Homo sapiens: one gene and its partners. The protein of the gene in region 4 purifies or fractionates together with the protein of the main gene of each other region. This does not show direct contact. Each region holds a gene or a part of one and is shown on either strand. Other genes may lie near its edges.

Evidence for each region.
Region 1: the proteins of L3HYPDH (region 4) and CCNE2 purify together in Homo sapiens (affinity purification with mass spectrometry; 3 studies listed by BioGRID and IntAct, with this or other methods). This does not show direct contact.
Region 2: the proteins of L3HYPDH (region 4) and UTRN purify together in Homo sapiens (affinity purification with mass spectrometry; 4 studies listed by BioGRID and IntAct, with this or other methods). This does not show direct contact.
Region 3: the proteins of L3HYPDH (region 4) and DIXDC1 purify together in Homo sapiens (affinity purification with mass spectrometry; 3 studies listed by BioGRID and IntAct, with this or other methods). This does not show direct contact.

Annotation. Positions count from the first base shown.
Region 1 is NC_000008.11:94,892,190-94,900,152, forward strand, and holds the start of CCNE2 (G1/S-specific cyclin-E2), read right to left. Parts: upstream 3,013-7,963; 5' UTR 2,988-3,012; intron 2,059-2,987; 5' UTR 2,033-2,058; coding exon 2,019-2,032; intron 1,931-2,018; coding exon 1,834-1,930; intron 1,756-1,833; coding exon 1,702-1,755; intron 781-1,701; coding exon 629-780; intron 1-628. UniProt on the Homo sapiens protein: Essential for the control of the cell cycle at the late G1 and early S phase.
Region 2 is NC_000006.12:144,484,292-144,491,463, reverse strand, and holds part of UTRN (utrophin), read right to left. Parts: intron 6,080-7,172; coding exon 5,945-6,079; intron 3,917-5,944; coding exon 3,767-3,916; intron 2,792-3,766; coding exon 2,630-2,791; intron 1,394-2,629; coding exon 1,265-1,393; intron 536-1,264; coding exon 362-535; intron 1-361.
Region 3 is NC_000011.10:111,968,243-111,975,414, forward strand, and holds part of DIXDC1 (dixin), read left to right. Parts: intron 1-270; coding exon 271-396; intron 397-5,780; coding exon 5,781-6,012; intron 6,013-6,633; coding exon 6,634-6,741; coding exon of another isoform or gene 6,742-6,745; exon of another isoform or gene 6,746-7,172. UniProt on the Homo sapiens protein: Positive effector of the Wnt signaling pathway; activates WNT3A signaling via DVL2. Regulates JNK activation by AXIN1 and DVL2.
Region 4 is NC_000014.9:59,481,394-59,489,305, reverse strand, and holds the start of L3HYPDH (trans-3-hydroxy-L-proline dehydratase), read left to right. Parts: upstream 1-4,897; 5' UTR 4,898-4,989; coding exon 4,990-5,497; exon of another isoform or gene 5,498-5,626; intron 5,627-5,730; exon of another isoform or gene 5,731-5,816; intron 5,817-7,912. Other genes in the region: JKAMP (JNK1/MAPK8-associated membrane protein), read right to left, coding at 1,478-1,632, 2,502-2,593, 4,190-4,235. UniProt on the Homo sapiens protein: Catalyzes the dehydration of trans-3-hydroxy-L-proline to Delta(1)-pyrroline-2-carboxylate (Pyr2C). May be required to degrade trans-3-hydroxy-L-proline from the diet and originating from the degradation of proteins such as collagen-IV that contain it.

The DNA of each region.
Region 1 (7,963 bases), on a different chromosome or scaffold from region 4:
ATGTGATCACAGTCAAGAGAAGTCTCAATCACCTCTAAATAGATCATCTACAGCAGGATCACCTATGGGGTGGGTAAGGTGGGACAGAATGCAGGGAAAGGGGGATTGGTGAGTTTAAGTGTCTGATTCCATTAAATTGCTTATTAAGGCCAATCATAAATTAATACAGTACATGTTTTGTATAAGCTGTACCTCTTAGTTACACTCATGGACTAGAAAAAAGAATTAAGTATAGACCTTATTAAGTTTGGTAAGAAATAAATAGGGTTGATACATCAATTGGAAAAGCTTCCTTTGAGTTGAAGCTGCAAGAAACACGAATAAAAATTTTAAAGGAAAAAGCTGTACATGTAAAAATGTTTCTATCTTAACAAAAAACTAATTCAGTCCTGTTAAGTCTTTATAGTACTCAGCAAGCAAATGAAAATAATTTTATAGAATCAGTGTTTTAAATACCCATATCATTTGCAACCAGCACTACTCTCAGATAAAATGACATATGATTAAATATTAGTAAACAATTTTTACACGTTTTTCTACTTTATGAAAGCAAAAGACAAAATAGTGCCATGTATTAAATCAGCACAACTTTATATCTTTGAAATAAAATTACTGAAATTTTTCTTACCTTAAATCAGGCAAAGGTGAAGGATTAATAAAAAGATTTTTAAATCTGTAATTTGTAAATCTGGAGAAATCACTTGTTCCTATTTCTTTGTGAGGTGTTTCAATGATAATGCAAGGACTGATCCCCCCAGATAATACAGGTGGCCAACAATTCTGTCATAAAAAAAAAGAAAAATATCAATTTGTGCAAGGAAAACCTTAGTTTTTGTAATGGATCTTTCATAAATGAAAGCTAATATGTCTAAAGAATCATAATTTTAGCTAACATAGATGGCAATATAGCTAATTTGACATTCACATTTTATAAACAAGCCATATAGCTCATATTGATTTTTATAAAGAGTAATAGGATGTTTTAGACAACAAAATGCAATTCTGGTAATAGAAGACACCAGGTGTCGAAGAAGGACAGTAATAACAAAATGCATCTGCAGTCTAAAATACTAATCACTTTCAAGATCACAGAATCGTTCTCTGTATCTAGCAATAGTAGCAGGGACCTTTTTTTTTTTTTTTCAAATAAGCTCTTTTTAAAAAAAGTGTGCTCTGATACTTTTGAATATTTGAAAGCAAAACCTTAAAAATGGAATCGATTACTTAAACGATTCTTTTCCCAATAATGCTGGTTTCAAACGCAATCACTATCTCCAAAGTGCTGCTTTCTGTAAAACACATAGGAAGAAGAGGTACCAAAGGGCTGCGTGCCAGGCTGTCAGTGATCTCACATCCTATTTATGCCCAAGAAGCAGCTATTAGGACCGTCTACTAGAGTCTGCGAGGGAACAAAGAGCAGTATATTGGACAGATTAGGCGGGCCCTGGTGCACCAGGCAGTTCCAAGAGGGAGGGATTTACAAAAAGGAACCAGCTGCTTGAAGGCACTTATTCTGCAGCTGTAGTAGGATTCGGGCACATAGAAACCACCCAAAGATAGGCGCCTTCCTGCTGACCTCTAGGGGCATTAAAAGTAAAAGTGTCAGAGGAATCTATCGCAAAGCAATAAACACATAATTCTATTCTTATTCATCTATCCTCCATTTTTCCCCCAAACCCACCCAGCCCAGTTCTGCATTACCCTAATTTCATACTGATGTTTCTTGGTGACCTCCTCTCTTCTTTTTTTGACATCCTGGAAAATAGAAAAGACCATTGGTAAACTAAAGTCCCAGCATGGAATTTCGTTCCTCCCTCTTTCTCCTTAAATCACCTGGGTAGTTTTCCTCTTCTTGGCCTGGATTATCTGGGCTTCTTGGGGGGATTCCGTCTGGCTGGGCTGGGGCTGCTGCTTAGCTTGTAAACGGCTACTGTAGTGAATTTTTAAAAAGGAAGTGTAATTAGTAAGTTAAAGGCAGCAACTAATTTGAAACATGTCTCTAAGACAGATAATGTTACCTTCGTCTTGACATTCTCTTCTTTCAGGTGTATAAAACCTCTGAAGGGGGGAGAGGAAAAGCCGCAGTCAAGTACATTGTCATTCACATTCTCCAAGTGCCAGTAAGACGCTGATTCGCAGGTGAAAGCTCAGTCCCTCCGAAGGGGGCCTGGGCCCTGTGACCCTGCCATCTTCTGTGCTATGTTAGCTAGCTCATGGTAATTCATTTTGGATACAAGCCTGCATTTCCTCAACTGAATGTACAGCTGGAACGCGAGTGTCCAAAAATTTACCAAGCACTCCTGACACCTTGAACGCGCAGGGAGGCACATCTTCCTCAAACGGGTTTTTCTGGGTCCTCCACCCTCTCCCCCGTACACCGGGAGTGGGGCTTGGGCAGCGCCCCCACGTCCCGCCTCCCTCCTGGACCAGCGGGGAGAGGGGGTTGTGGAGGCGAAATGCTGTGGAGAAGCCGGTTCCGCGCCAATTTGGAGAGCGGCGGTGGCGGGGAAGCAGGGGGCGGAGGAACCAAGACTGGTGTCACGGCCTCCAGTCTCCTTTCCCTCCTTCCCGGCCCTGCCGCCCTACCGCCGCTCGGAGGGGCGCCGGGACCCCAACTCCAGATGGGAAGCGGAGGGCGTGGGGGAGGGCAGGAAAAGGAGCTAAAGAAAGGGGAGACTGGGCTGGCTGGGAACTTTTCTCCCCATGGAGGGGACCCGGCCTCCCATCCTCTCTCCCACGGGATAGCTCCCCAAATGAGGGTGGGATAGAGAAGCCCCTAGAATGAGGGGCGGCTCTCCATGCCCAGCCGCTTCCCGGTCCCCTGCCAAGGTTCCTGACAGGGACGGAACGCGGGAACCCATGACCCCCAGTCGTCTAGTTCTCAGCCCTCCCGATTTTCCTCCCTGAGGCTCCCGCCTGTGGTAAGTGATCGGCCCAACTGGGCTTTCTTTCCTCCCACATCCCCCCTACGCGCAGCAACTCCTCACCGCCAGACCAGCTACCGCTCGGCTCAGCTGGCGCCGGCGCCAACCCAATATATAGGCCGGGCCGGTCCCGCCCCGCACGCATGCGCCTCAGACTGACACCTCCGGACAGCGCGCTCCCCTCTCCCGCCCGTCCGCCCGCGTGCCCGCGCGCCGCGCCCTGCTCTCAGTGCGCGCCCGCCACCCGGAGCGGCCGTGGGGTCCACTCTACCGGGCCTTCTGCCCGCGTCCACCGCGCTCCACGGCGCGGCCGGCGGCGGTAGGGAAACTCTCAGGGGCTCCTTCTCCGCGGCTGTTCTCCCCGCCGCCTGGCTCGCGCATCTCCCGCCAGTTTGCTTTTGCTTCCTCCCACTGCAACTCCTGGATTTCGGGGGTGTCAGCCTGCGGCTCAGCCCGGGCGCATAACAGGGGGACACGACTCGGGCGACCATAGGGTGGCTGGGAAGTGACCGTCCAGGGGCGCGCCCTAGCTGTCCCGCCAAGGCCTCAGGGAACCCAGGTCTTTCCTGAGCGACGCGGGGACCCGAGGGCCCGCCCCTCGGGGAGGAGCAAAGCGTTGGCTGAAGAGCTGGCCAATGGGAGGCACGGGCGGCAGCACAACGTGGAGTGGCTGCAGAATGTAAACACCACTCAGCCACGCGCCTGGCCAAGTGCGGCTCTGCTCTCCCCAGTCCCGGTCCGCGACCACCCGGAGCCCGCTCCGCCGGCCTTGCGCGGCGCGCCCAGGGAAGGCATTTCCAGCCCGCCCACCCAGGTATGTATCAACCCTGCTTTCCGGCTCCCTGCTCCCCCTACCGGGTTTCCCTCCCCATGGGTCGGTCGCTCCCCCAACCCGCCGCTCTGCCCCTGCAGTGGCCTCCAGCTGCCACCCCGCAGTCCCCGCGCAGGAAACGCTCGCGCCACGCCGCGCCCTCCCTTGCTTCCTCTCTTCTCCACCTCCAATTCCGGGATCCCAGAGGGTAAAACCCCTCTCCGGAGCGGGGCCCGGGAACGGCATTCCTCCTCCCCCTGAGCGCGGTGGTCCCCGGGGACCTGGCCGGGTGGGAAGAAAGATCGCCACCACGTGCAGGCCCCGGGCCCGCCTGCCGCGCCCCGCCCCGCCGCCGCCGCCAGCGCGCCCTGCGGAGCCCGCGCGAGCCGGCAGCGCGGGAGGGCGCCGTTCGCGCCCGAGCGCTGTTGGGAGGAGGGGGGCCCGACGCTCTTCCTTTATCCTTCCCCGGGTGTTTAAACTTAGGGGTCCCTTCGCTGCCTCTATGAATGCCCCCACAACTGGCGCACCCCAAAACTGCACATCGTCAAGTCAGACTTGCGGCGGGTATTCCGCAAACAGGTTTTGCGGCGGGAGCAGCGAGGCGGGGAACAGCTCCGGGAACAAAGATCCCCCGGGTGGAGGAGCAGTGCGAAGGCGTCTCGGAACCCGCGGTAGCTCGGGCGGGCCGCGTCTGCCCAGGCCCTGAGCGAGCCGGACGGCGAGCGGGCCGCGCCGGGGAGACGGAGCCTCGCGGGCGGGAGCCCTTCCCGAGATGCACCGGGAGGCGGCGCCCGGCGACCCCCGCTCCCGCCCGGCCTTTTGTGCTGCGCCGCTCGAGCGCGCTTGAGGCCCGGGAAATAGCCGCCGCCGGATGGGCGCTTTGGGGCGGGCGAAGTCCTTTTTCACACTTTTTCGATTCTTCGTCTCGTGACGCCGGCAAAATAATTCTCTCCCTAATTTACCTGTAGGAGCTTTGCCCAAGGTGACAGCATCAGGAGAAGCCCATGCCTTGTCAGTCCCAAGAAACTTTCTGCCATTTCTAACGCTTAGGATGGCTCTCGGCGGGGCAGAAGTTGCCTCCCTTTTGCAGTCACTCAAAACGCAGTTAGCGGTATAGCTAGCTTAAAGGTCTAACAGCATGATGTCAAGAAAAGGGGTCAGGGGTCTCCCAACAAGGGTCACCTGATCGTAAGCAGAACTGGTGGCCCTCGTGGTTGAATTTGATAAAATATACTGAAAACCAGTATGTCGAGTAACGTTTGTGGGAATCATCTTTGAATGATGAATGTATGCTCAGTACTGAGTTAACTAGTAAATTGATTTTAAAAGACACTGCTCTTATAAATGTTCTTTCCATACCCTTGACTATTATGTGAACAGAATGCAATCATAGTAAAGGAGAAATTAGAAAATTCCAAGACGTCTTTGTGTGGAAAGGAATAGAGTGAATTCTCCCATATTACAGATACCTGGTCAATAGACAAGTGGGTCTGTTAAAAAAAGAGAAAATAAAGGGTAGGGGGCGGGTATGTTTGTTTTTAGCTTGCTCTTTTCCTACTTATCCGTTTTAAAATTCACCTAAAGTATATTTCCCCTATTGTACATGTAAAGTTAAAACACCATGGTAAATAAACTGTTGGCCTCTACCATGCTTCTCTGGGGTAACTATTTTGATTGCTCCGACATTCATTTTCAGGAGGAAAAAACCCCAGAAGATGCTTGGAGGCACAGGCTTAAAAAAAAAAATTCAGGCTTAGCCCACCCATTTCTTTATTCTGTGCCTTTTTTTTTTTTTTTTGTATATCTCCTCTGTCGAAGCTTCACAGATCCTTTTCCCTGTGCTACAGTTATGCTCATCTTACAGGACAAAAATTACTTATTTAAATGTCTTTTATTTCCAACTCGACCTCGGAAATTGTTTTGTTCATCTTTTTATAGCCAGTATTCAGCAGTTCAAAGGCATATATAGTAGGACTTGGGTAAATGCTGATTTGAATTGTATGTAGGATATCCCATTATAGAATTTTAGGTCTCTAGGTTACCATGATGGATGATAGACGGATGGTGGAATTATTCCCAATAAATACCAGGCTTTTAAAAACATTAATAGACTTTATTTTTTAGAACAGTTTTAAAGAAAAATTGAGCAGGTGGAACAGGACTTCCATATACTCACTCCCCTCTCCCACCCACCACACATGCACAGTTTCCCCTGTTATTGACATCTTATAGTATGGCATATTTATTACCCTATGATGTGTTTGCTATTTAATGAATCAATGTCGATGTGTTATTATTAACTAAAGTCCATACTTTATTCCTATGTCTTTAGTTTTTACCTAATATCTTTTTATTGCTCTAGGATCTCGTCCAGGATACCCATCACATTTAGATGTCATGTCTTAGGTTCCTCTTGGCCATGGCAGTTTCTCAGACTTTTGTTTTGATGACCTTAACAGTTTTGAGGAGTGCTGGTCAAGTATTTTGTAGGCTAACCATGCGACAAAAACATCAGATGAATTCCGGTAGACGAGTTGACTGGGGTTATGGGTTTGGGGAGGAAGATCATAGAGATAAAGTACCATTTTCATCACATCATACTAAGAGTTCATACCGACATCATGATTTATTACTGTTGATGTTGATCTTGACCGCTTGGCTGAGGTAATGTTTGTCAGGTTTCTCCATTGTAAAATTACTCTTTTTCCTCCCTTTCCATACTGTGCTCTTTGGAAGGAAGTCACTGTGTGCAGCCCACACCTAAGGAGTGAGGAGTGATCTTTTTTAGGGTGAAGTATCTGTATTATTTTAATTTATTCTGCATTAGAGATTTGTCTCTTTTTCCCCATTCATTAACTTAGTCATTTATTCCTATCAGTATGCACTCATGGATATTCGTTTTATAATTTGAATTATAATTCAATAATACTTTATCTTGTTGGTCAGATTGTTCAAAACTTTCACCAAGGTATTTTTCATACGTTTTTATTGTCATGAGACTCATTTGAAGCTAAGCAAAAATGAATGGTGCTTAATAATAGTATTTCTCATGTAACAAGAAAGGAATAAAACATTTTCTTCCCATTTAATGAAACTTGCTTATCCTTCATGCTTATCTAAAACATACATAAAGGAAAAAAAATCTTTGTATTTTAGTAGAGACAAGGTTTCACCATGTTGGTCAGGCTGGTCTTGAACTCCTGACCTTAAATCAACCGCCCGCCTCGGCCTCCCAAAGTGCTGGGATTACAGGCATGAGCCACTGCACCTGGCCAATTTTTTAAATTAGAATCAGGTGAGATGCAGTTTTAAAAACAATTTTATTGTTAAACAAATACATTTTACTGTAAGATAGTTTTGACTTCACATTCTACTTTGAAGCGTCATTGAGACCTCTAGATGTCCACAGAACACACTTTGAGAACTGCATACATAGTTGCCCAAACCAGAATCCTGGGAGTGAACTTAGTCATTCCTTTTTTCTTCTTTTCTGAGCTTCATAATCATAGTTAATATTTCCTGGGTAAGATAATGTGCTAGGCTGTACCCCAAGCCTTCACATACTATTAACTCCTTCAATCTTCCACCAACACTATAAGACAGGTGCTAATGACTGTCATTCCTGGTTTATAAATGAGGAAGCTGAGGCACAAGTGTAGTTTGCCTAAGATCCACAGTAGAGTCTGACTCCAGCTCACCTGTGCTGTGCTGCCTCCATTTATCACCAAATTCCTTTCTCTTCTGTTCCCAAGTCATTTCCACATTCATGCTTTATTTCCCTCTGCCTTAGTTCAGGACACCATTCTCTCTTCAGTGCAATACTCTTCTAACTGGTTTTCCTGACATGCATTGCCTCTTGCAGTCTGCCTTCCAACCTGTTGCCAAACTGCCCTTCCAAAGCACAGATGCCACTCCTTAAAACCTTTCTGTACCTCCGCTTGGATTAACAGTCAAACCCCAAAACTTAAACACACAAGACCTCTTGCGCCCAGGAGATCCCCCTACATGGAGCTGTCCACATCCCCTGTCCTTCTCACCTTGGGACCTTGGCACCTGCACCTCATTCTCCCCACCTCCATTGCCTTTCCCCAGCTAGATCCCATTTATTCATTAATACTCAAACACTGCCTTTTCTAGAAAGCTGTCTTGCCCTGTTCTGAAGTAGGACTTTCCTTTGTAGCACCTCTTCTCCAACTTATGCTTGCCTCTACCCCTGCTTGTCTCTGCC
Region 2 (7,172 bases), on a different chromosome or scaffold from region 4:
AAGTATGGTTCTTCTAGCTAATTCAAATTTATCCTTGAAAACTTTGCTTATTAGTCACACTCTGCTGAAGCCCTCCTAACTTCACATGGTGATTAAGCTGTATTTCTTTTGTTTTGGTTTTTGTCATCATGTTATATACATGTCTATTCTAGTTTCCTTAGCTATCTCTCTTATCTCTTCTAATTTCTTTGGAGGGAAAGACCACACTTCTTATTTTTTAACACGTTTTCCATCATCAATCCTTATGTTTAGCACACTGTAGACTAGTGATCACTGGACACACTAGGCATGTACTTGCTAGACCAAGCCATAACAGCTGCTGAAAAAGCCACTGGATGTGCCAATCACCCAAAAGCCTCACCATACACTTGTCCAGGTGCGTCTGTATGACGTCAGGGTCTACGTCCTTCACATCCAGAACGTGAAGTTCTGCTTTCACGCCATCCAGCACACGCTTGCAGTCCAGCATGCGCTGCTCGAAGTTAGCTGGCTTCTGGAAAAGCTGGAACTTTGTGGACACCTCTCGGAGTTTCCTCTGTTTGCAGAAATGAAAATATGCAATTCCCATCAGGATGATTATCTCTCTCATCATGAGCATAACAGATACTACTAAAAATTTGTACCATAAAGTACCAAAAGAAAAAAATTCAGAAATATGACCCAAAATAAAAAACTCCTAATGAATCTCAGTGAGGGTACCCGATCACCTAAGTGAACTGCATAGCCCAGTGTCAAAAATTACAACACTCAGTGTCTCAATCTCAGAAGTAATAGATTTGGATAAGAAATTTAGATAAAGCTGACCTCACTGGAATTAAAACTTCATGTTCAAAAAGATAGTTCAGGAACCTAGAACTCAAAATGCCCTTCATCACAAGTTCAGAGTGAAAGTCAATGTCATATCAACCATGAAAGAACTAAATGATGCTGCATCCAATTCATGCTCGGCCTGCCCACAGCATCAGCCACACGATACTGACAGAGGCTCTGCATTAAAGAAAAAGTGTATATAAAGCTAACTTCTAAATCTGGCTCACTCTCTTGTTTCTCATCTCAGCTATCAAAATCAGATTTCATATTTTTCCACACATGCAACAATTTGTTTCTGCTGCCCTAGGATGCAACCTTCAACACATCATCACTCCCATCCCATGGTTTACATCACAAAGAATACAAACGGTGCCCAAGTAATCAATTCTTTCTCTTTTTTGAAGAAAATTCCCAACAAGTTGAAAAGTAAAAGGAAGCTCCTGGCCTTCTTTACCTGTAGCACATCCATCTGACTTCCTCCTCTGGCAGTCCTACTCTCTGGGGAGGTCAGGGGCTGAGAACGCATATTTCTTCTCAACTCCTCTAGGGTTAGCTCATGGGCTGAGATCTCTGCTTGGATTTTCTAAAAAGAGATTGGAAAGGGGAGAGGATGTCCTTTTTTTTTTACTTAAGTATAAAAAGAGACAATACAAAAGTTCTATATCGTTGTGTAATACATGATATCGTATTTTACATAATGTTGACCTCCACAGAAGCTTTAATAAGTTTTTGTAGGCCAGGTGCGGTGGCTTATGCCTGTAATCCCAACACTTTGGGAGGCCGAGGCGGGTGGATCACGACATCAGGAGTTCAAGACCAGCCTGGCCAAGATGGTGAAACCCCATCTCTACTAAAAATACAAAAATTAGCTGGGCACGGTGGCGGGCGCCTATAATCCCAGCTACTCGGGAGGCTGAGGCAGGAGAATTGCTTGAACCTGTGGGGCAGAGTTTGCAGTGAGCCGAGATCGCGCCACTGCACTCTAGCCTGGGCAACAGAGTGAGAATCCGTCTAAAAAATAATAATAATACGTTTTTGTATAATAATAATAATATGGCCCACTGCATGGTATGACTATTGTACATGACGCACCTGCTAAGGGCTTTGCATTTGTCGTTTCTAATGTTCACAACTTATTTATAAGGAAGGAATTGTCCCAACTTCACAGCTAAGAAAACTACAATTTAAAATATACAGGACTTTTCAGCCAGGCACAGTGGCTCACGCCTGTAATCCCAGCATTTTGGGAGGCCGAGGAAGGTGGATCACCTGAAGTCAGGAGTTTGAGACTAGCCTGGACAATATGGCAAAACCCCGTCTCTACTAAAAATACAAAAATTATTGGGAGGCCGAGGCAGGCAGATCACTTGAAGTCAGGAGTTCAAGACCAGCCTGGCCAACATGGCGAAACCCCGTCTCTACTAAAACTACAAAAAATTAGCCGGGCGTGGTGGCGCGTGCTTGTAGTCCCAGTTATTCGGGAGGCTGAGGCAGGAGAGTCACTTGAACCCAGGAGGCGGAGGTTGCAGTGAGCCAAGATCGTGCCACTGCACTCCAGCCTGGGTGACATAGTGGGATTCTGTCTCAAATAAATAAATAAAATAAAATAAAATAAAATAAAATAAACTATATAAGACTTTTGCCAGAGTCTCACATAGAAAGCAAGAGAACTCCAAAACCCAAATGCTGCCCTGTAAGTAAGGTCAATCTTTCCCATTGACTCTCGGTTTTGGAGAGCAGGAGGGGTTCTCTTATAGTTGAGGAGGCAATTACAAAAGCTCTCTTTACAGCTCAAAAGCCCTCAAATGCACGGCAATACCTGAGCTTCCTGTGGAACTTGGAAAGCATCTATCCTGTCAGTCAGGTATGTGGTGAGCTGTTTGTCCAGCTCCCCCAAGCTCTCTTGCAAGACTTGAAGCATCTGGTCAGTTTCCCGCAGCACCTGGAGTTGCTTTTCCAAAGAAATCTGCTTGCTCTCTGCCTGCACAAAGGAGAAATTGAATCATTAGTTGCCCAACACAAATATAAATAGCAGAATATATATATTCTGGCCACTAAGAAAAGACCATAAAAGCTTTCATCCAAGACTTTAGCTTTCTTTATAAATAAATAATAATTACTAATGATAACAGTGAAAATGTCCCACTAGGATCTTATGTACCATGCAGCTGAATTACTAATTATTACTTCTTTCTATATATAATGTTGAAATACAAAAATGTAAAGGTTTCCCATAAGATGCATTAAACAGAAGATAAAAATGTGTTATTTATTATAATTTTAAAGCATTTTTAGGAATCAGCAATGTCTGCCAATTAAGAATATAAAACATAAGAAAAATGTCTATCAATACACAAACATCAGAGTCTCTTTTTTTCCAAAGCCTAAAACAAATTCTATAGGTGTACATACATATCAAACTACTATTTACAGCACTTTTGGGTTAAGCTTGATGTTATTCATGGGCTGAACATCAACAGTTATTATTTAATATGTGTTTGGAAGCACCTAATATTCATACCCAACCTTCCTATAAAAGAAATGTTCTTTCTCTAATTTGTGATACGAATATGTATGTTACAACCTGGATATGAACTAAGAGACTATGGCTTTCACAGCAGCTTATGTGAAATATCATGGCCCTAATATTTACTAGGATAGTATGAGTTGTTGTTCTTATATACAGCTATCATATGATCCTTAATGAAAATTAAATGTTTGTAAGTAGAAGTAATCTCAAAAATAATTTTTTTAATCATCCAGTTCTGTCTTAGAGTGTTAGATCTATTCTTCCTTTCTGAATATTTCAATACCCTCAATGCCCCTGTTAGCATTGGTTACCAACTTTAACCAACATTAAAGATTTTTCCAACATTAAAGCTCTATGATATGGAGCTTAGGGCCAGCTCCACTTCATCAATACCTAATCAACACCCATGTATGTCCCAACTCTTACCAGGTGACTTAGATCTTCATATCGGCTGTTGAAAGCCTCCAGTTTCTCACTGATTATATCATCCAGGATCCCCCCATCAATCAGAGTCTGGCCAAGCTCTCGAATCTGGGTGCGATTATCTGCCGGGTGGCGCAGAACAGATTCCAGAGACTGGAATGGAGATGGGAAAAAAAAATAATAATGCATTTACTAAGGCAAAAGGTATCAAGGATCCCCAAAATGTCTATTTGTTAAACAAGTAATTATATTTTCTAAAAATCTACCTAAGTAACAGGACCAAAAGTTAAGTAAATTACTAATTCACAAAAATATCCATCATGGGATTAAAAAATGCATAAAATTGAGAAATTAGCACAAGTGATATATGATATAATTTCACAAAAATAATTTCAACTATTATTAATTATGGGAGGGTGAGGCAGGAGGATCACTTGAGCCCAAGAGTTCAAGGCTGCAGTGAGCTGTCATACCACTGGACTCCAGCCTGGGCAACAGAGCGAGACTATGTCTCTAAACAATAAATAAATGAATAATAAAAAGTTAAAAATAATTATTAATTATATGGGGAAATGCTCATGACACAAAGTTCAAAGGCAGAGAACAGTACTATACAAGCAAAATGATCTCAACTTTTATTAATTATATTACTAAAAATAAGTAGTCATTTTCCTACAATATATGCAGAATAAGAGGCATTGTTTTATATACACACTTTTTATATACATAAATCTAATTAACCATATGGGCTAAATAGCATTCCCAGTTTACAGATTGGAAAATTGAAGCTCAGAAAGGTTAAATTACTTGCCTACATACACACAGTCAAAAGAAGAGCTAAGATTCCAACATGGCTCTAAAGCTTTAAGACTCCAAAGCCTGGCCAAGTGCGATGGCTCACACCTCTAATCCTAGCACATTGGGAGGCCGAAGCGGGTGGATCACCTGATGTCAGGAGTTCGAGCCCAGCCTGGCCGACATGGTAAAACCCCATCTCTACTAAAAATACAAAATTAGCTGGGGTAGTGGCACACGCCTGTGATCCCAGCTACTCAGGAGGCTGAGGCATGAGAATTGCTTGAACTCAGGAGGTGGAGGTTGCAGTGAGCCAAAATCATGCAATTGCACTCCAGCCTGGGCAACATAGCAAGATTCCATCTCAAATAAAAAGATAAATAAGTAAATAAAAGACTCCAAAGCCTTTGATCCAATATACTACCTTCTAGTATGCATACATAAAAGATAATAATTAGGAAGAAATCTACAAACTGTTTTAAAATGTTTATCTTAGAGTTTGCTTTATACTTTTCTTTATTTTCCATATTTCAAGAATATATACGTATTCACTCTTACATTAGGAAAAAAATTAAGCTTTTCATATTTTTCATTCACTCTGTCTCTCACTCTGCTATATTTGAGAAGTGACATCTTTTCTCTAGCAGAGCATCCGTCTCCTGGAATGTAAGTGCCACATTTTACTCATTTCTGACCTTTAATCCAGTTGTCCACTCAGTTCCCACATGGTACCATGACATTTTTAAAAGCCTATCTACCCCCTTCCCTTTTCTTTTTTGTTAAGCAAACCTACCCTCTTTGCACTGTATTTCATTTAAGAAACGGTTATTAAGTTAACATGTGCTACACACTGTGCTGGGAACTGAGGAATAACAAAGCATCGGGTACATTTCTTGGCCTCAAGGAGTTCAAATCCAGGCTTGAAGACAAGCTCCTACGACAAGATCCCATGGCTCAACCACTGTCTTAACTTCTAGCATCTGAAGGTAAGAGACAGGAATCCCCTATAAACTGTCAGTGCTGTGTTTAGTGAGTAAAAATAACTTGTTGATGAAACAAGAGAGCAGTTGTCCTAATAACATATGGCAGAGCTTTGTCCAGGGCCTACTAAAATAAACTGGAAAACCACTAGAGTGCTTCAACATGTCTAAAATGTAAGATGTCAAACAGCTAACCACGTCTTGAGGCTGATATAATGGGTCACCAATAATCTAAATACACATGATTGTATAAACACTTCAGGCTATGGAAGAAAATGCAAGTGACATTGAAAACCACTGAGGAAGCAAATGCATTTGCCTGCGTAAAGCATTACATTCCTCATTGTAATACACGTGTGGCCTCATCACAGCAAAGAGAAATGCCGTGGAGATCACGGGTTCCAACCTCCAGGGCTTCGTTGACAGCATCCGTCTTCTCAGGCAGGACCTCTGTGCTCTTCATCCGCTCTTCCAAAGTGTTTAACCAGGTAGTTTCAAGATCCAAATAGTGAAGCAGTTCAATCCAACAAGACCAGACCTCCTAAAGCATGAAAAATTTTAAATTAGACAAAAAGCCATTTCACACATCGTATCTCTAGTACTACACATTCTCTTTAATCGCTAATAATTTCATTTGGATGTGAGTATACCTAGGAATTCAGAACTGATGGAGTTGAAACTTCAAAAAAATAAAATAAAATCGGCCAGGCGTGGTGGCTCACGCCTGTAATCCCAGCACTTTGGGAGGCTGAAGCAGGCAGATCATGAGGTCAGGAGATTAAGACCATCCTGGCTAACACGGTGAAACCCTGTCTCTACTAAAAATATATATATATATATAAAAATATTAGCCGGGTGTGGTGGCGGATGCCTGTAGTCCCAGCTACTCTGGAGGAGGCAGGAGAATGGCGTGAACCCGGGAGGCGGAGGTTGCGGTGAGCTGAGATTGCACCACTGCATTCCAGCCTGGGCAACAGAGCAAGACTCCATCTCAAATAAAATAAAATAAAATAATCAACAAAATCATATGAGACCAGTTGGTGAAGGGTGGGGAGCAAAGAGTGGGCAAGAGGCTGCCTCACTCTTTAAAATAAATTCCATGATCTGATTTAAATGTCAAAAATAGAACTATATAATTAGTAAGAAAAACAGGAGAGAAACATTATTTAGTTTGTTTTTTAAAGACCAAGTGCGGTGGTTCACACCTGTAATCTCAGCATTTTGGGAGGCCAAGGCAGGTGGATCACATGAGGTCAGGAGTTCAAGACCAGCCTGGCCAACATGGTGAAACCCCATCTCTACTAAAAATACAAAAACTAGCTGGGCATGGTGGCAGGCACCTGTAATCCCAGCTACTCGGGAGGCTGAGGCAGGAGAATCACTTGAACCTGGGAGGCAGAGGTTACAGTAAGCCCAGGCCACGCCACTGCCCTCCAGCCTGGGTAACAAGAGTGAAACTCCATCTCAAAAAAAAAAAAAAAAAAAAAAAAAAAGTTTGGTTTTTGAACAAAATGAAAAAATTGCTCCCAATTGTAAATTTTTAAAAAATAATTTCATAGAAAATTGAAATCTCCTGGGCCCCACCCAATTCCAACTTGGAGCTAACTGATGTAAAAGTTTGCAATGTAGCCTTC
Region 3 (7,172 bases), on a different chromosome or scaffold from region 4:
ACTCAATAGATGCTGAGTGAATATTTGCTGACTGAATAAATGTACACACAGTAACTTCACAGACCCCTAAGTATAAATTTGAAAGCCTTCCAAAAGGCTTTCATATTCCTATTTCCCATCTAAATGACAAACACCAGGACTTAACTCATTTATATATTTATGTATAATGTTGGTGTTCACATCAAATCTTCCCTTCCTCTGTGTCTAGCTGCTATGAAACTTTGATAATATTCCTCCCTATAACTTCCTATATTTTCTCTCTCCTAACAGCAGGAGAAAAGCTGAGTGGGGTACAGCTGAGTCCCGGTAACCAACAGGAGATGAAGAATAATGTGGAGAAAGTGCTACAGTTTGTGGCCTCTAAAAAGATTCGTATGCACCAGACTTCGGCTAAAGGTCAGTGCCTCATCACATCCTTGGTGCATGAGTATACTTTAACCAGTGAGTGCTAGCCTCAGGAAAATCCTTGGCTGTAACCTGGGGGAAGATAGAAAGTCTCCATTCATTTTATTTTATTTTTTATTTTTTATTTCATGATTATTATTTTTTGCGACGGAGTTTCACTCTTCTTGCCCAGGCTGGAGTGCAATGGCACAATCTTGGTTCACTGCAACCTTTGCCTCCCTGGTTCAAGTGATTCTCCTGCCTCAGCCTCCCAAGTAGCTGGGATTACAGGCATGTGCCACCATGCCTGGCTAATTTTGTATTTTTAGTAGATATGGGGTCTCACTGTGTTGGTCAAGCTGGTCTCGAAATCCTGACCTCAAGTGATCTACCCGCCTCGCCTTGGCCTCCCAAAGTGCTGGGATTACAGGCGTGAGCCATTGTGCCCGGGCATTCATTTTAATTGAATACAGATTTGCTTGAGTGTATGTAGGAAAATTAGTGGTTAGAGAAGAAATTATGGTTGGGCATGGTGGCTCATACCTGTAATCCCAGCACTGGGAGGCCAAGGCGGGAGGATCACTTGAGCCCAGGAGTTTGAGACTATCCTGGGCAACATAGTTAGGCTCTGTCTCCATTTTTTAAAAAAGAGAGAAGAAATTACAATATTGGGATATTAATTTTAGAATTTCTCATTTAAGTTATCAAAAATGAAGAGTTTATGTTTTTTAAGTTCCTTGGGTTTCATGACAAAATATTATTTAAGATACTCATAACCTACATTTTTTCCATCTAGTTTTTTAGAAGGGAAATATTTTATAGCCCTTTTTTGGATATCATAGAACATTCTAGGCAGGATGAAAGCAGCTCTGTGACCTCTGCATCTGCCCTCTTCTGTAGTGGCTTGGCCCAGATGGGTTTGCTGGGCTATTTTGAGCCCAGGCTTCAAGGGAGGAACAGTGTAGGTGTTCTTAGAGAGCATAGGCTCCCTAGTTCTCTTGCTGTTTCTCGAGAACTGACTATAGACCTGGTTTTGTTTCAGCGTCAGTTCCTGGGTCTGATTGCCTTTGGGTCTCATGACAATAGGGGCAGAACGGCTCATGTTGGATTATTATATTAGTGTTCTCTGTGTTTAGATCATTTAGATGAGGCCAATACTGATCATTGAGAGCACCTTGTGGAAGGTATCAAAGAATCCTTCACCACTCCTTCTCAACATAGTACTGGCAGTCCTAGCCAGAGCAATCAGGCAAGAGAAAGAAATAAAAGGCATCCAAATAGGAGAAGAAAAAGTTAAACTATCTCTCTTCACTGATGATATGATTCTATACCTAGAAAACCCCAAAAGCCTCTGTCAAAAGGCTCCTAGAACTAATAAATGACTTGAGTAAAGTTTCAGGATATAAAATCAGTGTGCAAAAATCAGTAGCATTTGTTTTACTTTTTTGAGATAGAGTTTTGCTTTGTCACCCAGACTGGAGTTCAGTGTCGTGATCTCACCTCACTGCAACGTCCGCCTCCTAGGTTCAGCTGATTCTCCTGCCTCAGCCTCCTGAGTAGCTGGAACTACAGGCATGCGCCACCATGCCTGGCTTATTTTTGTATTTTTGTAGAGACGGGATTTCATCATGTTGGCCAGCGTGGTCTCGAACTCCTGACCTCAAGTGATCCACCTGCCTCAGCCTCCCAAAGTGCTGGGATTATAGGCATGAGCCACTGCACCTGGCCAAATCAGTTGCATTTCTATACACCAATAACATTCTAGCTGAGAGACACATTATGAACACAATCCCACAAACAATCCCACTTACAATGACCACACACAAAAAAGAAATATCTAGGAATACATCTAACCAAAGAGGTAAAAGAAATTCAAAATACAAAAATTAGCTGGGTGTGGTGGTGCATGCCTGTAGTCCCAGCTACTCAGGAGGCTGAGACAGGAGAATAGCTTGAAAGCAGGAGGCCGAGGTTCCAGTGAGCCAAGATTGCGCCACTACACTCCAGCCTGGGCAACAGAGCGAAACTCTATCTCAAAAAAAAAAAAAAAAGAACAAAGCTACAAAGCTGGGGTGTCACATTACCTGACTTCAAACTATACTACAAGACTACAGTAACCAAAACAACATGGTACTGGTATAAAAACAGACACATAGACCAATGGAACAGACTAGAGAACCCAGAAATAAAGTTCCACACCTACAACCATGTGATCTTTGACAAACTCAACAAAAATAAGCAATGAGGAAAAGAATCCCTATTCAATAAATGGTGCTGGGATAACTGGCCAGCCATATGCAGAAGAATGAAACTAGATCCCTGTCTATCACCTTTTGCAAAAATTAACTCAAGATGGAATAAAGACTTAAATATAAGACCTTGAACTATAAAAATCCTAGAAGAAAACCTAGGAAATAACCCTACTTGATATTGGCATTGGCAAAGAATTTATTACTAAATCCTCAAAGCAATTGCAACATAAACAAAAATTGATAATTGGAATCTAATTAAACTAAAGAGCCTCTGCATAGCAAGAGAAACTATCAGGGGAGTAAGCAGATAGCCTATAGAATGGGAGGAAATATTCACAAACTATGAATCTGACAAAGGTCTAATATCTAGAATCTATAGGGAACTTAAATAACAAGCAAAAACAAATAACCCTATTGAAAAGTGGGCAAAGGACATGTACAGATACTTCTCAAAAGTGGCCAACAAACATATGAAGAAAAGCTCATCAACACTAATCAGATAAATGCAAATCAAAACCACAATGAGATACTATCTCACACCAGTCAGGATGGCTTTTGTTAAAAAGTCAAAAAATAACAGATGTTGGCAAGGCTGTGGAGAAAAGGGGACACATATATTGTTGGTGGGAATGTAACTTTGTCCAGCCACTGTGGAAAGTAGTTTGGAGATTTCTCTAAGAACTACAGCAATCCCATTACTGGGTATATACCCAAAGGAAAATAAATCATTCTACCAAAAGGACACATGCACCCGTAGGTTCATTGCAGCGCCATTCACAATAGCAAAAACATGGAATCAACCTAGGTGCCCATCAACAGTGCAGTGAATAAATAAAATGTGGTGTGTATATCTATATCTATATCTATATCTATATCTATATCTATATACACCATAGGATACTATGCAGCTATAAAAAAAAAATTCATGTCCTTTGCTGCAACATGGATGCAGCTGGAGACCATTATCCTAAGCAAACTAATGCAGAACCAGCAAATCAAACACCATTATGTTCTTACTTATAATTGGGAACTAAACACTGGGTGCACATTGGGACATAAAGATGGGAACAATAGAAACTGGGGACTACTAGAGGAGGGAGGGAAGGAGGGAGGAAGGGCTGCAAACTACCTGTTGGGTACTGTGCTCACTATCCGGATGATGAGTTCAATCGTACCCTAGACCTCAGCATCACACAATATACCTTTGTAACAAACCTGCATGTGTACCACCTGCTTCTAAAACAAAAGGTGAAAAAGAAAAAAAACAAACACAAATAATCCTTTTCCAAGACTTGTATATTTAAAGGCTACAAAGCTAAAAAATAAAATAAAAATTTACCCATTTCGTTACATTGACTTTCACCAGACTTACCACACTGTTTTCTGCCTACATTCCTCTTTTATTTCTAGGGCAAAATTTAGAGTTCCACGATACCTCTGATCTGGTTCCCATGTGGAGTGGGCTTGGGGATCTGGCCCATTAAAGTCAGCTATTTTGAGGGAACACTGCCATTTAGGACATCATTGTCATTTACCTGGAGAAGTGTAACAGTCTGAGTTAGTCCTGCGGCATTGATTTTTGTCCCCTTCTCATCTGCTCTCCACACTGCAGTCAGAATGATCTTTCTAAGAGTACATATACTCATGCCACTCCTCCGTATCTGAGGACCCTTAGGATAAAATCCAGAGTCCTTCCTGTGGCCTCCCATGCCCTGTGTGATCCACCCTCTGATGCACCCCTCTGCTGCCTCACCTTTCCCTGTCTCCCCCTGCATTCTGGGCTCTGCCTATGCTGAACTTCTTTCACTTCCTCCACCACAGTGCTGTGTCACAGAAATAGAATGCAACTCACATAGGTAACTTAACCACATAGGTTTCTAATAGCAGGCCGGGTGCAGTGGCTCACACCTGTAATCCCAGCACTTTGGGAGGCTAGGCCTCCCTGATCACACTCCTGGTCACTTGAGGTCAGGAGTTCAAGACCAGCGTGGCCAACATGGTGAAACCCCATCTCTACTAAAAATACAAACATTAGCTGGGCGTGGTGGTGGGCACCTGTAATCCCAGCTACTCAGGAGGCTGAGGCAGGAGAATCGCTTGAACCCAGGAGGCAGAGGTTGCAGTGAGCCAAGATCGTGCCATTGCATTCCAGCCTGGGGGAAAAAAAAAAAGAGTTTCTAATAGCCACATCATAAAAAAAGAAACAGGTGAGCCGGGCGCAGTGGCTCACGCCTGTAATCCCAGCACTTTGGGAGGCTGAGGCAGGTGGATCACCTGAGGTCATGAGTTCAAGACCAGCCTGGCCAACATGGTGAAACCCCATCTCTACTAAAAATACAAAAAATTAGCTGGGCATGGTGGCGGGCACCTGTAATCTCAGCTACTCAGGAGGCTGAGGTAGGAGAATTGCTTGAACCTGGGAGGTAGAGGTTGCAGTGAGCCAAGATCACGCCATTACACTCCAGCCTAGACAACAAGAGTGAAACTCCATCTCAAAAAAAAAAAAAGGTGAGATTAATTTTAATAATATTTCATTTAACTCAATATATCCAAAATACCATTTCATGCAATCAATATAAAAAGTTATCGAGATATTTTGCATTTTGGGGGCATGTGTGTATGCTAAGTACATACTACACTTAGAGCACATTTCATTTCAGACTAGTGACTTTTTAAGTGCTTGATAGCTACAGGTGGCTAATGGTTCCCATATTAGATGGCATAGCTCTAATATATCATGCTCTCTCCCACTTCAAGACCTTCACACCTGCTGTTCCCTCTTCCTGGAATACTCTTTGTCTTTCTCTTGTCTAACTAATGTGCTACTCTTTTGTCAATCAAGTCTCAGTTTAGAACCCACTTCCTCTAGGAATCCTTCTCTGAGCCATCTAGATAAGATGTCTCTACTCTGACCTCCCAAAGAATCCTGTACTTCTCTTATCAAAACACATGATCTTACTTTATTGTCATTGCTGTTATATATTCGGTCTCCCTTGTTGCCCAGAGCTTTGTGAGGACTGAGACCCTGACTGCCTTGCTTACCTGTATCACTAGCAATATGTAATAAATGCAGAAGTCCTCAGCTTTTGCCTCCCTCTTAGGACCTCTTGGTCTGTTTTATTCTTGGTCCGTTTTATCCTTCAGATATTGTGGATGGAAACCTGAAGTCTATCATGAGGCTGGTCCTTGCCTTGGCAGCTCATTTCAAACCTGGCTCCAGCAGGACGGTGAACCAAGGACGGGACTCCAGAGCCCCTCTGCAAAGTCACCGACCACACTGTGCCACTGCTGTTGCCCAGGGAGCAGCTGCTGCTCTGGCCGATGTGTGTCATGACATGTCCCGATCAGGACGGGATGTCTTTCGATATAGACAGAGGTAAGGGTAGAAATCTGGGGGTGGGAACTGATCCCTCTCTCTGATACTTCTTCTGTTAGATGATACAGTGCAGTAGATAGAAACGTCACCCAAACAGCCCCAGATTGCAGAAAAGAACATGGAGTGGGGAGGTAGGGGAGGGCACTCTCAAAAGAGAAAAGCCTTTTCTTCTGAGATGTTTATTTTTATTTTGCATTTAGCAAAAGTAAAGGAATCTTATGTGTAAGTTTTTGCTCTGGTGCCCAAAATTTAAATATACACTTTTGGCACAGTGTGTTTTCTTCACTGGGAGGTCCGTGGGAGCAGTGTTCCAGTTCATCTAGAGGAAGCTCCACTCTGGAATGTACCCAAAGGTCAGGTTGTCTTGGGAGTCATGGCAGGAAATGCTTTGTGGGTTGTGTATCTGCTAAGAGAGAGCAGGACCCTGAGGTGTTGCACAGGTTGGTGAATTACTTGTTTTTTGTCTGCCTTCCCTGCTAGGTACCAAGTGTCTTTGAGGCAGGGGTTTTGTCTTACTCATGTGTGTATACTGCTCGCAGAGTGGCAGTCTCTCTGTACTTGTTGAGTTGATCTGATCTGAAGGACTGACACCTTCCCTTTGCTGGGGTCCTTTGACTTTAGGAACAGCAGCATGGATGAGGAAATTGAGAATCCATACTGGAGTGTGCGGGCCCTAGTGCAGCAGTACGAAGGGCAACAAAGGTCCCCGTCTGAATCCAGCTGCTCCAGGTAACTGTGGCCTCTGAAACCTGAATTCTGGAGGATTCTCGGAGTTCTCGGCTTCAAGTAACAATACAACAAGCAAAAAGGCACCTAAGCCCTTTTTCTCCCCTCAGTTTATGTTTGGCTTTAAAGGGATACCCCTTAGCAGTGCTTTGTGGGTTTGTGCTAGTAGGAGGGTAGGAAGGTAGGGTGGGGTGCTGGTTTATTTCCCACAAATGGAATCTGTGCAGTCCCAGTGCCAGTGCTTAACTGTGACCACATGGGGGCATGGCTGGAACCTGTCAGGGCCCAGTCCAGTGGTTCTGACATTTGCATATGAGGTGCCAGTGTTTATGATAGCCAGTTCCATTGTGCTGTCCTTGAGCCTAAGTGTAACTCTTAAGGCCGGAAAAGTCTGTGTAAAGCTCATAGAAGAGAAGAAATTGAGCAGAGTTGTC
Region 4 (7,912 bases):
TGGAAGAAATCATTAAGCAACAAAACATCCAAGATGTGCTGTGGCTGCTTCTAACAGCCTATGATCAGATAGATGTGGGAGCAAAGGAATGACTTAAAAATTGGGACTTATACTTAAAAAGGAAAGCGGAGTCTAAAAGTTTGGAAAATGTGCAGCCTGGCCATGTGGTAGAGAAGAAAAGCATTTTCAGGAGAGGAATTCAACCAGGCTGTACAGCAACTTGCTAGAGAGGTTAGCATGGCTAAAAGAGAGCCAAGTGCTAATAGCCAACACAATGAGAAAAAGGCTTGAAGGCATTTCAGAAGTCTTTCAGACTGCCTGTCCGACCACAGGCCCAGAGGCCTAGAAGGAAAGAATAGAAAGTAGGCTGTCTTCCTTATTTTTCTCTTTTAATTGGGCACTCTTTGTTTTGTTGTTGTTGTTTTGTTTTTAGTACTCAACTTTCTGAGTGACTTTTAAACTGAAATCAGAAGGAAAAGAAGGTAGCTAGGTAACAAGTTGCAGTCAGATGAAGAGAGTATTTCAGACAGCAGAAAGAGTTTGCAGGAAGGGAAAGAACCTAAAGTAGGAAAGATCCTGAGAAGTTGGAGGAACTAAAAGAAAATCAGTAAGGCAGAATTTGACTTCCCATTCCCAGCAGATTAAAGTTCACATGCTTATCAAGAACCTTCACATTCTGGCCTCAACCTATCTTTCCTACTCCCCTTTATATTACTTTTCTTCATTTGCAACCCACTCTTGACTACCCCAGATTACTTCCATTCCTGCCTACCACAGATCACATATTTCATACCTCTATGCCATTATTCATGCTGTTTCTTCTGCCTAAAATGTTCCTTTTTTGAAATCTTTCAGATCCCATGAGGCATAATTTATCTCTCTGTTCTTTGTAACTCCAGAGTACTTTGTTTATAACTCTTCCACTACATTTCTAAGACTGATTTATAATTATGTACACACTTGTTTTCTCCACAAGATTATGACTATAAGCCATGTCAGTTATTTTTATATCTCCTTCCCTGATCTTCCAAACATAAAATGCAGTGCTTAGTAAATGTGTGCTGATTTAATATGTTAATATGAGTTTTTGTATTAGGTTACAGCTATATCATTTTTAACTACATCATACTAGATTATTAGTATTAAATTAAATTACAAAGAATGTGTTCCATAACAATAAATAGCTTGTAATCATAACCAATTTTGTGTAGAAAACCAATAAGGATTATAGTTGAGAAGTAAAAGTATTCCTTCAAGATCACTGAGAGTAAAACAGACTAAGGACAGTTCCCTTAAAAATTACTAAGTCATGCCCTATTGTTAAGTTTTCTTGTCACAGTTAAGAATAATCTGAAGATAAAGAAAAACATGTTTACCACTTTTAAAACAGAAGAAGCATAATTACTTAATAAGGTCTTCTGAGTGATAATTATTCCAACATTAGTCCAGCCAGATATGTTCATAGAAATGTGCTAACCTCTTTTTCCCCGAGTACCATTCAATGAAGAACCAATGTAAAACCAGAGGAAGCATTGCCATAAATCCAAGATAGAGCCAATCATAAAGTTCAGGAGATTCTGTGCAAGGCTGACAATATTTCTGTGCATTCGTTCTCTGTCCTCTTGGGCATACCTATAATATATAAAACCAATATTTTGTGTACAGATATTATTTTACAACATTAACACCCCCCCAAATCATTCTATAAGACATCCCATTTCAGTTTAAATATTTAAGTTTACATGTGCAGCTTTTAGAAATAAAAAAGAGGGCATAAGTAAAATAAAAAGAAATCTATATTGTATGTGCTATATTTGTACAATGCTCTTAGAAGATTCCTTTTACTAAGTTACTAAAATAGTTGACTAACATTCAATGAAAAACCTAGTTATTAACATTATATAAGAATAACTGCAGATAAATGTTCTGGATTCATGATGTTCAACTTACTGTACAAGACACGGTACCAAATCATAAATTAGAAATTATTATAAAATTATTAAATGTTTTAAAAAATAATATAGACATCAAAATGCCAACATGAACAATGACTATATTAATGCCTCCATATTCTTTTATATTTCCTTATTTTATTTTTTTTTTGAGACAGAGTCTCCCTCTGTTGCCCACGCTGGAATGCAGTGGTGCAATCTTGGCTCACTGCAACCTCCACCTCCTAGGTTCAAGCAATTCTCCTGTCTCAGCCTCCCGAGTAGCTGGGACTACAGGCGCACACAACTATGCCCAGCTAATTTTTTTCTATTTTTAGCAGAGATGGGGTTTCACCATATTGGTCAGGCTGGTCTCGAACTCCTGACCTCAAGTGATCTACCCACCTAGGCTTCCCAAAGTGCTGGGATTACAGGCATGAGCCACTGCGCCTGGTCCTCCATATTCTTTTATAAATTAATGAGTATAATAACAAAAAATGTTGTATGTGAAAATATTTCAAAAGCAAATAGATTTTACAAAATGAAATAAGATACAAACATAAGACTTACCCCACATTCTCCATATATTTCAGTTGAGCCATTTTTAAATAATAGGGTCTTCCCACAATAAAGTCCAAGGCATGCTGGTTGAATATCGACAGCTTTTTAAAAACAAATGCCAGTATAGTAACATCTTTTGTGATTATAAAAAATAATTGCAATAATAGCTGAAGCATTTGGCAAAAATAACAGTTTCAAATTTTTGAATAATATGTATTAGACAAAAGTCTTGAAGCATTTTTAAATTTACATTTCTCCTTTTACACTGTGACACTGCAGACAGTTATCCTGGAACCTTGCTGTTAATACCGTGCCTTATGATTAAGGTCCTCAACCAGCAGAGCAGGATCTATCTCCAGGACTCAAAGCCTAACCCGGTATGATTAGAGGATACTTCTGAGTTTAACTGATTATAAAGTTCAAATATACATATATTTTTAAATTAGAGCACCAGTAGAGGGTCACCACCTTGTATTTTGCCCAGTCAGGACATTAAGCACCCACATGTAGACACACAATTATCATTATCACCTATGTTCATAACAGAACACATTTTCACATGGGAAAAGCAGAGAGAACATAATTTCATAACAGAGGTATGCAAATTACCTTTATAAAAAGTTTCCTACATTGTCCTAGCTTTTATCATTTTTGTGGAGGATAAGTGAAAATTTCATCAAGGCTGTCACTGGGCCAATATTTTAGAAACCACTGCATTAAAATTAAGCCCCTGATCTAAAGGCTTAGGGGAAAAGCAGCTATTCCTTACTTAAAAAAACCCCAACAACTAAGAACCTAATACGTTGTCTTTGACCTTATTCACAAGAAATTATGGAAGTTTTCTTCATCAGTGACATCTGATTCCCTTCATTCATTCATTGATTAAAACAAACAAACAGGCTCGGTGAGGTGGCTCACGCCTGTAATCCCAGCACTTTGGGAGGTCGAGGTGGGCAGATCATGAGGTCAGGAGTTCCAGACCAGCCTGGCCAAAATGGTGAAACCCCGTCTCTACTAAAAATACAAAAATTAGCCTGACGTGGTGGCGCGCGCCTGTAGTCCCAGCTACTGGGGAGGCTGAGGCAGGAGAATCGCTTGAACCCAGGAGGCAGAGGTTGCAGTGAGCCGAGATCGCGCCACTGCACTCCAGCCTGGGCTACAGAAGGAGACTCCGTCTCAAAACAAACTGCGGTCTACATGTGAATTAATTTGAAAAATTATGCATCTTTTGACTATTCTTGAACAATCATTTCCCAAATTATTCACGAATTCACAATCTAGACTGCCTGGTCTACAGTGCCTTCTCTCCTTTCACATTCAAGCAGACTTTTTACTTCCTTCTCCTTATGCTGCTGAGAGAAAAAGAGAAACAGCATTGAATAATATTCCTCCAGTTTAATATTTTCGCTTTTAACAAATTTCGGACTTAGCTTTTTAAACCCACTGGCCTCTTTAATGGGCGCTTATTTTTTTTGTAACCAATTGTAATCACAATGTTCTAAATTAATACATGAAAATGAATATTTCAGGTTTTTCAAGAATGCAGAAGGTAAGGAATTGGAAACTTCTGTATGGGCTTTACATCTAGTAGATGCTTAATAAATACACGTGAATATCAATAATCTAAAGTTTCTCAAAATCCAAGGCCTGAAAACCAGTATGATAAACTGAACTGAAATAAACAGCCTATCACTTACTAAGCAAAACCCAGGCTCCAAGCGACTGTTGAATTTCTCCTTTCATTTCCTTTAGCGAACGATGGCTAAAGTTTTAAGATTCCATTTTTTTGCAGCGGTCCTGCCCTTTGTGACGGGCGCTATAAATCTACGTTTGAGGTTGAAGCAGTAGACAAATTATGCAGCAACTTGCTTCTGCTTTACTGTTTTTTCTGCACTATCACCCGCGTTTTCAATTCCGAAGTCAACCCTCAAGCAAGTGTTCCCTCGACATTAAACTAAGGGACTGAAGAGACATTTCGGACCAAACAACAAAGACCTGGCATTTCGCCGCAGACAGCGCGCCTCCCCTAGTAGCCCGTTGCGGACAGACCACCCCAACCCCGCAGGAGTGCGGAGCCCGGCCCGAGGGCGGGCGGGGTCAAGGGGCGAGCCTGCGCCGCCAACCGAAGGCCGCCTACAAAGAGCCGAGCCCGAGGCCAGCCGTGTAGGAAAGTAGTCGGGACTACCAGAAACGCTTCCCGGGATCTTGGCGACCACTCACCCATGGGCCGCCTGAAGGTTTTTTTCGAGAAGCACTAGATCAGCGGATCTGGCAGCTGCACCGAACATCCGGGCCACAGCGAGCTCGGCGGCTCCGCCTCCCGGTAACCCGGGCGACAGCTCCGAAGTTCCTCCCTCGCTTCCGGGTTTAGGCTCCGAGACCCCGCCCCCCGGACGTGGCTGGTTAGCGTCCCGCCCTCCTCCCGCGGAGTCAGTGGGTGAGGGTCGGGCTTGAAGCCATAGCTGCGGGACCGTACTCGTCTCCCCCGACGCAGACCATGGAGAGCGCGCTGGCGGTGCCCCGGCTGCCCCCGCATGATCCAGGGACGCCGGTGCTGTCGGTGGTGGACATGCACACGGGCGGCGAGCCCTTGCGTATCGTGCTGGCGGGGTGTCCGGAGGTGTCTGGGCCCACCCTGCTGGCCAAGCGGCGCTACATGCGCCAGCACCTTGACCACGTGCGGCGACGGCTCATGTTCGAGCCCCGAGGGCACCGGGACATGTACGGGGCGGTCCTAGTCCCGAGCGAGCTGCCGGACGCGCATCTGGGCGTCCTGTTCCTGCACAACGAGGGCTACAGCTCCATGTGCGGCCACGCAGTGCTGGCGCTGGGCCGCTTCGCTTTGGACTTCGGGCTTGTGCCGGCGCCCCCTGCGGGCACCCGCGAGGCCCGCGTCAATATCCACTGCCCCTGCGGGCTGGTGACCGCCTTCGTGGCATGCGAGGACGGCCGCAGCCACGGACCGGTGCGCTTCCACAGCGTCCCGGCCTTCGTGCTGGCCACAGGTAATGGGCGGGACCTTTCCAGCCCAGGGCAGAGCTGCAACCGGGACGCGACTAACTACATTAACGGTTTTTCTGGGCTGGAACTCTGGCAACTAACCTACTCCGCGAAACCTTGCAATTAATAGAAAGGTAAATCACTGCCAACGTGTGTCAGCAGCCTTGCGTATTTGGTGCGTGTAATTTCGATTTTCCCTGACTCCCATCCGCCTGTGGTTTTGGGAGACCCTTGAGGAGCGAGGAATTGCGTGTTACCCTGACTCAGCGCCTCCCTCTGCACTGGTGAGGCATTCCTAGAGATTTCACCGGTGGATAAAGCAAGGTACGGTGGGGTCAAGGAAAGAGCGAAGAACAGCCAATGTACCAGGGTTCCAGGCTGGCTGAGAATATGCTTGGTAGACACAGAATCACACTTAATAAGTTACTAAACCTGGTCTCCTTTCCTCACCTCCCCCACTTCTTTGAAGAATTAAATGAGAATGAATGAACAAAGCAGTTTATAAATCATTAAGATACGAATGTTGCTTTTCTTTAAGAACAGGAACACACATTGCCTGGTTTCAAATCCTGATAACCCCCTAAAGCTGTGCAACCTTAGGCAAATTACTTAATCTCTCTGTGCCTGTGTTTCTTCTTTTCCCTCATAGAGTTTTTTTGTTAGGATTAAATGAGAGTATGCAAGATACTGTATTCCTGGAGATAGATTGCAAGGTTTATATGATCGCTAAAGTTCCCTAGGCCTATTGAGCCATTAAAAGGTTTTGCTGGATTCTCTAGTACAGATCCTTGTACAGCTTATCATGTAAAGCAGGGCATCTCTATAACCATAACCCTTACAGGAGGGATGACCTGGCAAGCTGGCATCTGGTTTCTCATCAGACTACTACCTCCCAGGAGCTGAATTCTATCAGTAAGAATGCTTTAGTCATTGTGACTGGAAGTGAGCCAGGAGCCAGTTTACCAGGAATAGAGTTATCCTTTTCTTAAAAATCTTCAAGCCATGCAAATCATCTGTTAGAAAGTTGGACCTTGATTCCCCCTGAAGAACTAGGTTTCAGATTAGCCTGATTATGAATGATAACTGATAGAACAGGCACTTTTAGAGCAACCTTAGGCAGCTGAAATCCACGAGTTAACGAAGAATGCCTCTGGAGAAATTGATGCCATTTTCCCAGAGAATGGTGTCACTTCCAGACTGGGAGGCCACTTGAGGGAGACAGAATTTATGTTTACGATTCCATTTTTAAAACCTCAACAGTTTAACTAGCGTGGCTACCAGAATTCCCCCTAGGCAACTCCAGCAGCAGAGTAGAAACACTCTAGACTTCTGTAGGAAATGGCAGCTGGCAGCAGGAACACAAACTACATCTCATTTCTGGGTCAGTTAGGGCAGGGTCAGTCAACCACTTGACCTCAGTAGTTCCTCTCAGTAGTTCCTGAGAGCATCACTGTATGACAGTACAATGATTAGTGGGCATTAATGGTCACTGAGTTAAGAAAATGAAATGCTATATTCTCTACTTTGAAAAATGCATACAAGGCAGACATAGTGTTCAAGGTCACTGCCCCACCTCTCCCCATCTCAGTGACCTTGTGCTAGAGAGTCCATGCCTCAGTATCACAGTCTGCAAAATGAGGATGACAACAGTACCCACCTCAGAGGGTTGCTGAGTTCATCTCCACCCCACCAGGCTAAAATGCAAACTCTTTCTTGTTCACAGTATTCTAAGTGCCTAGAAGAGTAGTCAGTCAATGAATGTTTGTTGAATGAGTAACTAAATAAATGAAATTTGGAGAAGAATATGCTGATTGACAAATGTAAACATCTGGTCCTCTTGAGAAACCTATTGCCACTGGAAATTAAAGTTTTGGCTTTCGAGTCCCTAATCTGTGCCAGGAACTCCCCATACGTGGAATTTTCAAAACAACTCTTTTAGGAGAAATAGCAGTTACAGTTTGCACAAGACACCAAAGCCACACTAATGGCAGAACTAGGGTTGGAACCCTGGCCTATCATATTGCTTCCCTCTCATCCTTAAAATTTTTTGTAGTTTAAGGAGATATGTTTCAATTTTCTAGAATAGTGCTTAGTGTATTTTAAAGCATTTTAAAATCTGTCTTGTCCAACTAAACTCCAAGAAGGGGAAAAGCCTATGTTTTATTCCTTGTACTTCTCGTATCTTCTACAGTAATCGGCACATAGTAGGTGCTCACTAAATCTTGAGCAAAGTAAATCAAATTGAAATTTCAGTGATATGCTTGTATAGAAGAAAAGAAAAACCCTTAGATTTTGGATTGTGTTCTGGATAGAGGTTGTATATTTTAGTAGAAAGGGTTTGGGCTTTGGAGTCACCTGGTCCTGGGTTTGACCCCAAGCTCTGCCACTTATTTAGTGGGTAAACCAGGGAATAATGTAAA